Linked DNA regions of Homo sapiens: all the other regions are linked to region 2. The links come from fine-mapping of genetic effects on gene expression. A gene starts in region 2. Each other region holds a variant in brackets. All regions are shown on one strand. Distances are between the middles of the regions. Region 1 overlaps SH3BP4 (SH3 domain binding protein 4). Region 2 holds the start of SH3BP4 (SH3 domain binding protein 4). Region 3 has its middle 110 kb from the start of SH3BP4.

What was found. PIP is the estimated chance that this variant, and not a neighbour inherited with it, causes the effect.
Region 1: its variant is fine-mapped to the expression of SH3BP4 in whole blood (TOPMed, PIP above 0.99).
Region 3: its variant is fine-mapped to the expression of SH3BP4 in atrial appendage (GTEx, PIP above 0.99).

Annotation. Positions count from the first base shown.
Region 1 is chr2:235,049,840-235,053,969 of GRCh38, forward strand. It overlaps SH3BP4 (SH3 domain binding protein 4), which reads left to right. Exons shown (of 6, transcript NM_014521.3): 5 at 2,723-2,911; 6 at 3,753-4,130. The coding sequence ends at 3,977. Among named protein-coding and RNA genes, the nearest start is that of SH3BP4, 100 kb to the left of the region's middle. RefSeq lists an enhancer at 2,436-3,397. The variant C/T (reference allele first, on the strand shown) is at 1,741.
Region 2 is chr2:234,950,240-234,954,369 of GRCh38, forward strand. SH3BP4 (SH3 domain binding protein 4) reads left to right here and starts at 1,778. Exons shown (of 6, transcript NM_014521.3): 1 at 1,778-1,931. It overlaps LOC105373938 (a long non-coding RNA gene), which reads left to right. Exons shown (of 7, transcript XR_007088132.1): 6 at 359-1,112; 7 at 1,200-1,560. RefSeq lists an enhancer at 2,231-2,880.
Region 3 is chr2:235,061,603-235,065,732 of GRCh38, forward strand. No RefSeq gene overlaps it. Among named protein-coding and RNA genes, the nearest start is that of SH3BP4, 110 kb to the left of the region's middle. RefSeq lists an enhancer at 377-877. The variant T/G (reference allele first, on the strand shown) is at 2,082.

The sequences.
Region 1 (4,130 bases), 100 kb after region 2:
TGTCACTTCCAGCTGTGGGACCCGGGACAAGCCTGGGGTCTGCAGGCTTCCTGTGCTTATCTGTAGAACAGATGCCTTGCGGCCCACACAGCAGGGAGGACCTGGGGTTGGGTGCCCAGAGGCAGCTCTGGCTCTGGCATTTCTCGGTGTGAAACCCACTTCCCCTCTCTCAGCTTCTTCTGTAAAGTGGGTTGAACTCAGCCTCTGCTTCATGGGGGGCTCTGGGGAGCGGAGGAGCTGAGTGTCTGGCTCACAGCAAGCCCTGGGTTTCTTTTTTTTTCTTTTCTTTTTTTTGAGACGGAGTCTCGCTCTGTCCCCTAGGCTGGAGTGCAGTGGCGCGATCTCAGCTCACTACAAGCTCCGCCTCCCGGGTTCACGCCATTCTCCTGCCTCAGCCTCCTGAGTAGCTGGGACTACAGGTGCCCGCCACCACACCCGGCTAATTTTTTTTGTACTTTTAGTAGAGACAGGGTTTCACTGTGTTAGCCAGGATGGTCTCGATCTCCTGACCTCGTGATCCACCTGCCTCAGCCTCCCAAAGTGCTGGGATTACAGGCGTGAGCCACCGCTCCTGGCCTAGCCCTGGGTTTCTAGTAGCTTCTACAAAAACAAACGGCCACCAGGTCCTCAAACCCCCTTCTGGCCAGCCTCGTTGGTAGCCAGCTGTCAGCCTCTCATATCTAGGGAGGCATCAGAATGATCTGTCGCTCCTGGTTCTTTTTAAATTCCATGGATTGAGATGCTGGGGGCCCACCTAGAAGGATCGTGAGTCACCTACTCTGGCTAATGCATGCCACAAGTCGCCAAAAAGGTCACCTTTTTGTATTGTTAGACTCCCCCCAGGTAAACATAAAGTGTACATTAGAATGCTCAGTCTAAAACAGCTGGGCTCGCTTTGAAGTAAGCAGCCCAGCCGACCGCATGAGCACTAGCAAGACGACCCTGCTATCGGCACAAAATAGTTGGCCAAAGAGCGCCGGTACCAGCGGTGTGGTTGGCGGGGGTGGGGGGTTGTTTGTTTTTTAGCACACTTTGGAGTCCTAAAATGACAACCTCAGGTGCTGAAACAGAGCGTAGAGAGAAAGAACGCCAGGACTGGTGACTTTCCTCTTCTCTTAGCAACTCGCCTGTCCAGGGGCTCACGGGAGCCTCAGAAACCGTCTCTGGGCTGCCTCAGGCCACTGTGCCCTGGAAGCCAAGCCTTTCCCATTGTTGGATGAGAGAAAGCTTTAAGGGTGGGGGTGAGCTGTGCCTTCTATGGCAGAGGAGACTCAGACAAGAATCAGACCCAGCATGCGGCTCTCCTGCCTTCCTGGTGACGTCATCCTGACTGGCTCAGAGCCACACGCTAACCATGTGTGGCCTCATTTATAATTAGGATGGCGCCAGAGTCGCTTGCATGACACCCAGTGGCAGTCATGTGACTTGGCACAGTGTACAGGACTAGCAGGCCTGCTGTCTTGTGCTAGCCAATTTGATTTGTTTCTTTAAACCAGAAGTGTGAGTTTGACCCCAGCCTGGGGTCCCCCAGATATATTAGCCATATGTTCAATGCCTGTCCCATCCAGCCCCCGTTTTTAGGAGGGAATTGAGTCCCAAGGCGGCCACGTGGTTGTTCCAGCCTCAGCTGGGACTTCACTGTCCCAGCAGGGCTGTCTGTCCTATTACCTCCCCTCTGACTTCCTCTGTGGTTAGTAATCCCTGTCCTAAAGACACAGTAGAAAGTTCTTGCAGCTTTGA[C/T]GTGGGAGCAGTCCCACCAATTGTGGAAACCGTTTTCTCATGTTGCACAGTCCTGGGGGAGGTCTGTGCATCTCCTGGTCACCGTGGTTCTTGGTGGTACACCCTGTCTCTGACCAGGGCCTCTTCTGTTCTCTGTCTTCTTCTCCCTGGGTGGTCCCTGCCTGAGTCCCCCAGCCTTCTACCCGCGGTGCTCTCTAACTGGCCAATGTCAGCACCGCACACTCAGCAGGTCCAGCTCGCCCTCCATCCGTCTCGGCCTCAGGCTATGGTGTCTATTTGGTGAAATGCATTCGTTTCTCTCTGGTGTCCCCAGAGAGTGGGAGTGGTGACAACTCTAATCCATATTCACCCTGTCTGTTAGCTTCCTGGGGCTGCCAAGACAAATGACCACAAACCAAGGGACATCAAACAACAGACACCTGTCCTGTCACCATTCAGGAGGCCACAGGTCTCAGTCAGGGGTCCCAGGGTGGCCTCCGTCTGGAAGCAGTGGGGGAGAAGGGGTTGCAGGCCTGCCTCTCCTAAGCCCCACTGGCTCAACCCTCCTTCTTTTCCTTGGCTTGTTGCCGCATCTGTCCCGTCTCTGCCTCCGTCTTCACACGGCCTTCTTCTCTCTGCCTCTCTGTCTGCTTTCTCTTCTTATGAAGACGCCAGTCCTTGGTGACTTCCTCTAATCCAGAGGGACCTCATCTTAATTCTATCTGCAAAGACCCCATTTTCAAGTAAGGTCACGTTCTGAGGTTCTGGGTGGATGTGGGCTTTGGAGGGAGACACTGGTGAACCTGGCACGCTCTGCACATCATCTCTTTTCTCCCGTGAATCCTGGCAGTGATCGATTTCAGGGGACATTTGGTAGTAGGCCAGGGAACATGGAGAATAGAGAGCCCATGGCCATTCCTGCGCCGTCTGCTGGAATTCTGCGGGGAGCAGAGCCTGCCCCACTCCCTACACTGTCTCACGCTGTGTGCCTCTTCCTCTGCAGGCCCTACTGAAGATGGACTGCCAGGGCCTGGTGGTCAGACTCATCCAGGACTTTGTGCTCCTGACCACGGCTGTAGAGGTGGCCCAGCGCTGGCGGGAGCTGGCTGAGAAGCTGGCCAAGGTCTCCAAGCAGCAGATGGACGCCTACGAGTCTCCCCACCGGGACAGGAACGGGGTTGTGGACAGCGAGGTGAGCAGCGGCTGAGCTTCGAGCTCACCGAGCCCCTCTGTCCCTGGGTTCCGTGGACCCATGCAGTGCAGCCATAAAAAGTCTTGCCTCGCGGCATTTCTGTGAGGGTGCAACAGGTGGAAATGTGCACGCATGTGCCCAGCACTGGGTGTGCCTCACTGAGTGGGAGCCATCCTCCGGATTGGTTGTCGTGAGCCCTGGCTTTAGGATGTCAAGGCTGTTCCACACGACATGGGAAGGACAAACAGAACTGCCTGTCCCTTGTTCATTTTGATCTTAAATTACCATCCGTAGGGTTGAATAATGCAATAACACATACACAGAGGACTTTGTGAGCCGCTCTGGACTGGAGTGATACCTGGTATGTTACATAACTTGGGCCAAAGCCGGTGTGGCCGGGCTCTTGCTCAGAGGTCCTTTGTGTTCTCGCATGTTTGTGGAGGGCACCCTAGTAAGCTTCCTGGAAGACGGTTCAGGCTTGCAAGATCCAGGAAGCAGGAAGTCCCAAGGACAAAGCTGTCTTTTATGAATGGGATGAATTTCCAAACAAATGGCACAGAGAGAAAGTGCCATAAAGATTGTAAGGAAAGAGAAGTCCTTTCTGTTTATTCATTTGTTGCGCACCTACTCTTGCACAAAGCCCTGCTTTTCCCTCTGGAATGTGCTGACCCTGGCCCCGAGATGGTTCCACTGTTTCTTCTGTGGGCTTGTCTCACTCGTGAAAGAGTGTCCCAAATAGTGACTACTGAAGCTGCACCAAGTAATAGGAACAAATCTCGTTCTGTCTCCTAATCTTTCTTCCTCTCTCCCTCCTTTTGTTTTTTACAACTCCACCTCCCAGGCCATGTGGAAGCCTGCGTATGACTTCTTACTCACCTGGAGCCATCAGATCGGGGACAGCTACCGGGATGTCATCCAGGAGCTGCACCTGGGCCTGGACAAGATGAAAAACCCCATCACCAAGCGCTGGAAGCACCTCACTGGGACTCTGATCTTGGTGAACTCCCTGGACGTTCTGAGAGCAGCCGCCTTCAGCCCTGCGGACCAGGACGACTTCGTGATTTGAATGGGTCCCCTCCCCTCCTGCTGCTCTGGAGTGCAAGCCCTCTTCTGCCCTGCGTGCCCTGCTGTCACCGCGGAGCTGAAGAGGGAGGAAGGGGCGGCTGCTCAGACAGATTTAGGGCCCGCCAGCTAGGCTACACCCATCATGCGCCGCCCT
Region 2 (4,130 bases):
TCAATGTTTTTATAGGCATTTTTTAAAAAACACAGTGTGGATGTCATTTGGGATAGCAGTACTAATAGTAGCTAAAACTTACTGAAAGCTACTGTGTGCCAGGCAGTCTGCTGAGCACTTTACATGCTGCCTTTCATTTTTACACTCATTTAGGAAACTGAGTCACAGAGAGGCGAGATAACTTGCCAGAGATTCAAGCACACTCCAGACACATCCCTACACCAATCAGACCTCCTAGCCACCCAGAAACTCTCCTCTGCTCGGAGGCTTCTCTGCTTCCTCCACCTGCCCCTTCGCCTCACTGCCTCCTTTCAAAATCTGCGGCATGTATTTTAGGGATACTCGTATCCATTTTCAGGAATTCCATGATCTACACACAGATGACACCAAAATCGGAACAGCAATGTCCACCCTTCTCCCGAGCCCTAGGTCGGTGCCTCTGTCCACCTGTGTCTCCTGAAACTTCAACACAGACTTCAAATGGAGTGGCAGAAAACCAGATTCCTTAGGGAAAGGAAGGTCTCCCAGACGGCAGGAGCGGCAGGCCTTAGGGGCAGCCGCAGGGGCTCGGGAGTCTGAACATACCCGGTTTGAATTCAGACTCTGGCACGCCCCATGCGATCATAACATAGTGCTGCACGTCTCAAGCCACCTATAAAAACGGGGACAATAACAATATCTGCCTCGGGGTTAATGGTGAGGACTGACTGTGTGTGTCTCGCTCAGGACCAGGAGCAACAAATGTTGGCTTCTTCCCCGGCAAAGACCCGCGCTTTCTCCTGGGCTCCGGGTTCCCGGGGTGGGGGTGGGCGCAGTCCCGAGGGCCCCAGGCAGTGGCGCAGTGGTTAGACCCCAGCCTCTGGAGTCGGCCTCGGTTCAGATTCTGGTTCTACCCTTCTCCTCTGTGGCGAACCAACCCTCCGAGCTCTAGTTTACTCGTGTGAAATGGACTAGCCAAAATTGGGATTTTTTTTTTTTTTTAGGATTAGATGTGTCGGTCCATAGACGTTGCTGGCCACATAGTTAAGTGGTGCGTTCACTCACTGGGCATTGATGGAGCGCCTACTACGTGCCAGGCCTGTTTTACGCGCCGGGGGCCCAGAGGCGCCCAGGTCAGACAAAGTGTAAACGATTCCGACCAGAGCCCTTCAATCTGCATTCCGCTTCGCAGGAAACTCTCCTCCTTTTATGATTTTCAGCCGGACTGCCTTCCCTGTTGTTAGTTTGTAACTTTCGCTCCGGCCCCCGCAGCCTCGCGCCTGCCTTCCCTCCACTGTCCTCAGCCAAGGTGTAGTAAAGCGTCTCCGAACGCGGCGCGACCCTCGCCCACGCCCGCTCGCGGGGGGACCGCACCGCCCCAGGGGTCCTCGCTAGGGGTTCCCGGAGAAGGGGTGGGAGATGGGGGTGCGGGGGGGCACAGGAGCGCGGGCCAGCACCCAGACCTGCTCGGTACCGGGGACCCAGACCCGAGGATGCCGGGCGGCCAAGGCCCCGCTACCCTGGCCGGCTCCGGGCGGAGGAAGAAGAGGAGGCGCCCAGACTGGATACCCGCCTGGACCCGGAGCCGCGGCACCACCCCCAGCCCGCCCCACGCTCGCCAGCCTCAGACGGCCGCGCCCCGCCCCGCCCCTCTCCCGAAGCCCCGCCCCGGCGCGGGACCACCCCCTCCGCGGCCTCAGCTCCGGTCCTGGCCCCGCCCCCCGCGCCCCCGCCCCCGCCCCCGCCCCCGCCCCCGCCCAGGCGCGGGACCACCCTCCGCCCGCCGAGGCGGGGGCCCAGCGCGCCCGGCACTCTCGGCGGTCCGGGCCCCTCGCCACTACCGCCGCCGCCGCCGCCGTGAGTCCCGCGGAGCCGCGCGCGCCCCCGGCTGGGCCGAGCCGCTGGCCGACGAGCGGAGCCTCAGGAGCCGGCGGGGACGCCATGCGAGCCAGGTAGGCAGGCGGCGGCGGGGAGCGCCTCGGGCGGCAGGGCCCTGGGGGCCGGCGGGGGCGCGGGGTCGTGCTCGGGGGCTTTGCACTCCCTTGCGGGCGCAGATCGTGCCGCGGGCGCCGATCGTGCCACCGCCGCCTGAGTTCGGGGCTGCGCGGGTGCCTGGGCGTGGGGCGGCTTCGGGGAAGCCTCGCGCGCCCCTCGCCGCTCCCCCGGGCGCTCGGGTCTCCCTGGTGCTGGTGGGCAGGGACCCGGCCCGGGGTTCCGGGCGCCGAGCCGCAGCCCTCCGCGTGCGCTCGGGCCGCCCCCCAACCCCGGCTCTGGCCACTTCCCGGCGGGCGGCCCTGCGGGGTGGCCTCCCTGGGCAACCGGACGCGTCCTCGGGCGCAAATCGGGGGGCGCGCTCGGCTCACGGGGGCCGTGGGGGCCACGGGAGGGCGTGGAGGGGTCGGGGCGCCCCCCTCGAGCGGCGCTGGGGAGGAGGGAAGGACGCGCGGTCTCCGGTTAAACTTGTTGGTGACAATGCATATTTCAACTTCTTCGGAGATCCCTCCTGTGAGGATGAAATTGAAAACTCCGGTTTCTGGCTTGGCGATCGGGTGACCGAGCAGCCGCGAGGTGACAGCGCCGGCGGCCCGCGGGCGGGGACCGGCTGGGATAGAGGCGCGTTGTTCTCTGAGCGATGTTTACCGAGAAGCCCGCTCCGCGGCACGGGCGGGTGTCAGTTGGGACCCCAACCCTGGGTCCCGCGGCTCCTAGCCCGGGGCCTGCGGTGTAGACGGGGGTTGGGGACAGGCCCAGCTGGCCCTGACCGGGTGTCGGGCGCCCAGAGATGCCGCGCGGGAGGAGCCGCGGGAGAGCCGCCGGACTCAGCGAGCAGAGGGTCGTGGAGCCTGATGGATCGATGAGATCTGAAAAAGAACACTGTGCGAGATTGTATTCCTGCTTATTCTTTCCAAGTTAGTAGGCAGATTGGAACTATAGAATTTATCCGTGATAATAATAAAGTTCGCATAACTTTTGTTCTGATTACAGAAACAATGTATGCTCAGGACAGAAAGCTAGAGATAAAGAGAAATATAAACAGCAAACAGGAAACCATCCCCAATCCCACATTTTTTACCAGCCTTGTCACAGCCTGGCAGATTTGAACATTAAGTTAGAACTGGAGCCATTCTTGCCTAAACCAGAGAATCCCTGAATGCAGCCGCCCCTTCTCACCCTTGTGACCGTCTCTGAGCTCCAAAGTTTGGGTTTTTTCCTTGCTCCCTACCCGGGCAGAATCTCTGCTGGCCACGAGTCCCCTTCCCAGTGGGCTGGGGGCTTTCCTTGAGATCCGTGGCCCAGATGAAATGATGGGAGAGGCCTGGATCCTCACCGCCCTCTGTGGTTTTGGTTCCTTGCCTTGTAAAAATGAAGGTAATGATTCTCAATCTGCTTCTCAAGCCACCATAAAAATTAATGGGTGGTTTGCAGAGCGTTTTGACATCCGTGGATGGACAGCGGCTGTACTTTAAGGCGCTGGGGAACATTCTACTGTTCCTCATTGCAGTGGTCATGCAGTGTAATAGGCTGCCTCTCACCTGGCCGTCCTGCCCAGGAAACAGACTCCAGGAATGTCCAGTGGAGCCCTGAGGACAATATTCCTGGTTCCTTGCTCAGTGCCCTCGGGACTCGGCCAAATCCCTCAGAGTGGGAAGCTTGGGAAGAGGCAGCGCTCTCCAATCCCCCTCCTCCACCTCTGCTTTCTGCTTGTAGGCGGATTTCTTAAAGTAAGGGGGCAGTGATATTTAGGCGGGACCCCAGATTGCCCACTGCCTGATGTTTGTGGGTCTGTGGAATGCCCGGGCCGTGCTTATCCAAAAGAACAGTTAGTTCTGGGAGGACGCATAAACTGAACAAACCTGGCTTCCTAGAGATTTGTATGGCTCACTTGTTTACTAAATGAACAATGACCGGCTGCGGAGAAGCCCAGGACACTTCTGTGAGCTTTATTATTATTTTTTTCCTGTTGTCCCAAGACTACATTTTAGTGATCTTATAAAACAATAAATAAGAACCCATGCCATTTGTTAATTCTGGGTACCAAAGGCCCAGGTGGGGAGAGGTACTTCACAGCATGCCTTTTGTCCCCAAGCACCCATGCCACCCCCACAACAACAAAGTAATCAGGGTAGAAGATCCTCTTTCTGTAACCGTCT
Region 3 (4,130 bases), 110 kb after region 2:
GCCATTGCACTCCAGCCTAGGTGACAAGAGCGAAGCTCCGTCTCAAAAAACAAACAAACAAAAAAACAGGTTTCAAGTAGCGTTTGGCACCCTTGCCCCTCTGCCCTGCCCGTGAGGACACAGCATTGCTCCCCTTTGATGGTAGCAAGGCTCCGTCTTGGAAGCAGAGAGCAGCCCTCACCAGCCCACGAACCTGCCCAAGCTGTGATCTTGGCCTCCCAGCCTCCAAACTAAGAAATACATTTCTGTTGTCTTGACACCACTCAGCGCTGGGCATTCGTTAGAGCAGTGCAAATGGACTAAGAGAGATGAGAAGACGGGCCAGTGGCGAGCAGCCTGGAATGGCAGACAGGGAGGCAGAGGCCGTGGGACCTTCAGGCAGTGCCTGGCTGGGCCCGAAGAGTCCCAGGAATGGGAAGGCAGACAGAGATGGAGGAGGGAGGGTCAACTCAGTCTGCCGTTTGGCTGGACAGGAGCGGGTTGGGCCAAGAGGCACTGGTGTCCTGAGAGAATGTGGCCTAAGCTGTGTTGAACGGCTTTGCTGTACGTGGGGAGAGGAGGGGTGGAGGCTGTGGTGTGGGGAGAAGCTGAGTAAGACACAGATGGGGGAGCAGGAGGGGAAGCAGATCTAGGACTCGGCTCTGAATGGGAGGATGTAAGGTGTAGCTGGAAGATCATGGACCTGAGGTTAAAGGCCTTTGAGAGACGGCCAGTGAGAAGAAAAGGTGAAAATACGTAGAAACCTGGTCAGCAGCCCCTCATGCATCCACCCATTGAGTTGGTCATTAGGCGTCTGATTCAACTGCCTTCCATCGCTTTTCTTCCCTCGCCACAGCTACTGCTGTACTTCTGTGCACTGTCACCTCTCCCTGTAACTGCAATTCCAGCCTTATCCCATCAGCTGATCCTCCATGGCCCCCAGAAGGGTCCTTCTAAAATGGATTCAGGCCAGGCACGGTGGCTCACACCTGTAATCCCAAGCACTTTGGGAGGCCAAGGTGAGCGGGGCACACAAGGTCAGGAGTTTGAGAGTAGTCTAACTAATATGGTGAAACCCTGTCTCCACTAAAAATATAAAATTAGCTGGGTGTGGTGGTGTGTGCCTATAATCCCAGCTACTTGGGAGGCTGAGGCAGGAGAATCACTTGAACTTGAGAGGCGGAGGTTGCAGTGAGCAGAGATCATGCCACTGCACTCCAGCCTGGGCGACAAGAGCAAGACTCCGTCTTAAAATAAAATAAAATACAAAATAAGTTAAAAATTGGATTCAGGCCAGGTGCAGTGGCTCACACCTATGATCCCAGCACTTTGGGAGGCTGAGGTGGGTGGATCACTTGAGGTCAGGAATTCAAGACCAACCTAGCCAACATGGTGAAACCTCATCTCTACTAAAAGCACAAAAAGTTAGATGGGTGTGATAGCACACTCCTGTAATCCCAGCTACTAGGGAGGCTGAAGTGGGAGGATCGCTTGAACCCAGGAGGCAGAGGCTGCAGGGAGTCGAGACTGTGCCACTGCACTCCAGCCTAGGCAACAGAACAAGACTCTGTCTCAAAAAAAAAAAAAAAAAAAGGATTCATACCCCTCTCCTGCTTAGCCTCTGCCATCAGCAGTCCCCTGGTTTCAGCCGATGAATGGAGGCTCCCAAATGCCAGCTTGGAGGTCATTGTGGGTCCCGATGAAGCTTTCACTGGTACCTGAAAAATGAGAGAAGAAAAGACAGCGCACAGAGGATTTTCATGAGGCCACATTGATGCACATCAAATAACTGTCTCTGATCCTGAGATTAAGCCCTTCACTCCTTTCTCGTGTTAAAATGTCCTATATCCTGGTGACTGAAGGTGACAGGGGATTGTAGTGGCAGGAGTTGTTTTGGTGTTTTAATGCCTCGCTTGGTAAGGTGAAAGGCTGGCCGATAATACATCACACATTGTTCCGGACTTGTGTTGTTGAACACAGGGAGGGAGAAACGGGACGCCTGCCTGCAGCATTTCCATGGCTGTCTGCCCTTGTGGCTATTTCTGCCCTCACTGGGAGGGTGGCCTTTGTCATATCGTCTGTGTGCTCAGCACCTTGGAAAC[T/G]CTCTCGCTATATTTGGGACCCTTAAAACATAAACTCACAGCTTCCCTAGCAGCTAAATATAAGCGTATGACCAGAGTCCACCACGTGGAGCTTGGACTCTGAGGCTCCGATTCATGCAGAAGGAGGGAAGAGAGCCGGCGGGAGCGTCAGGGCAGCAGTGGTCACGGGGGTGAGCTCCTGACCCGGCCGAGGGTCTGTGGGGGACACACAGCCATGGCAGTTTGCTCTAGTGCCAGGCACGCCCACTGCAGCCACACTTTTGTCACCAGGCCAGTTCTGGACAGGGTTCCTGGAAGCTTAGCACTGAGTGTGGGGCTCAGCTCTCCCAGCCCTACTGTGAATCGCCCAGGTCCCCTTTAATAAGCCCCTTTGGTGAAGAATCAACACTTGGCAATTTTGTTGCCTTCAGATGAACACCTTGACTTCCTGCTCTGTTTACTCCTTCAGGATTCAGCTCTGCAAATCACGCTCCTAGGTGAGTCTTCTCAGATGCTCCCTCTGCGAAAGGTCCTTCCTTTGTTTTCCCATAGCTCTCTGACCTCACCACAAATAGAACTTGAATCTCTCTGTATCACAGCTGAGTCTTTGCCTGGTGTACCCCACAGACTGTGAACTGGACAAGGAGGATGTCACAGCGCTGGACTCACACTCAATAAATTCAACCTCACACTCAATACATTCTTGGATGAATGAAATCTTCAGAGAAATTTCCTCAGGGGCATGGAGGCCAGGTCCCAGTGCCTGAATAGCTTTGTGAGTACCTTGTGGTGCTCCTTTCTTTTTTTTATTGAGATGGATTCTCGCACTGTCGCCTGGGCTGGAGTGCAGTGGCACAATCTCGGCTCACTGCAACTTCTGCCTCCTGGGTCCAAGCGATTCTTCTGCCTCAGCCTCCGGAGTAGCTGGGATTACAGGTGCCCACCACCACGCCTGGCTAATTTTTTGTACTTTTAGTAGAGACGGGGTTTTACTAGGTTGGCCAGGCTGGTCTCGAACTCCTGACCTTGTGATCTCCCCGCCTCGACCTCCCAAAGTGCTGGGATTACAGGCGTGAGCCACCACCCCCAGCCGACTCCTTCTTTCTTAATCTAACAAATACATGTTTTGTGGGTGAATCCAGACCGTGTTCTAGAAAGTTTCATCTCTACTCGTTTTTAGTTTGTTGGTCTTCCCGCTATAATGTTACGTATGTTTAACTCAGCTGAAGCTCACACTTTGGAATAACAAGTGCTTGCTTTATTTTTCACACACCCACATATTTTTCTGCACTCGAAGTGCAAAATCAGTTCACACCCAGGGTGTAGACGATCCCACGTAGGAGAGAATAGCAAGTGTGGGTACGCTTGGTGGACATCTGTAGCCTCAGGTGAGCTTTCTGGGGGTTGAAAGTTCTCTCTGAACAGTCCCCTGACACCTGAGCCAGCCCAAGGCAGGCAGAGGGGGGATAGGGAGGTTGCCTGGCAACTCCAGGAGGCTCAGAGCCATCCTTTTTGTCTAGGAGAGAAAAGATCCAGAGAACTGAGTCACTTACATTTTTTATCCCGAGCCTGGTTAGAACCAACATACACAGAATGAGGAATTTACAGCAAAATTCACACCGACAGATCAGCATAACAACCTGTAACACTGACAGGTACAAACGCAATTCTGTGCCTGTTTATGGGAGTGCTGGACAGCGTGGATTCTTTGCACAGCCAGTGAATTCATAAGTATATTATTATGCATTAAAAATATCTTTAGAAAGTCAGATTCCAGTTCTTCCAGGAGCTTTGTACAACACCTTTACATATTCCTCATTATCACATTTTCCATGGATAGATGAGCTGAGAAATTAAAGACAGGAAAGGGGATGTGTGTTGAGGGACTCAGGGCACTCGACCTACTTAAAAATAATTCACACGGACCCTGGAGATTTACGGATTTTTTCCCAGGACCTGGGAGATAGCTATCATTTTTCAAATATTAGGTTTATACAGAATAAACCATAAATATTAGGTTTATACAGAATATTAGGTTTATACAGAGATATACCAAAGGTTGATGTCACT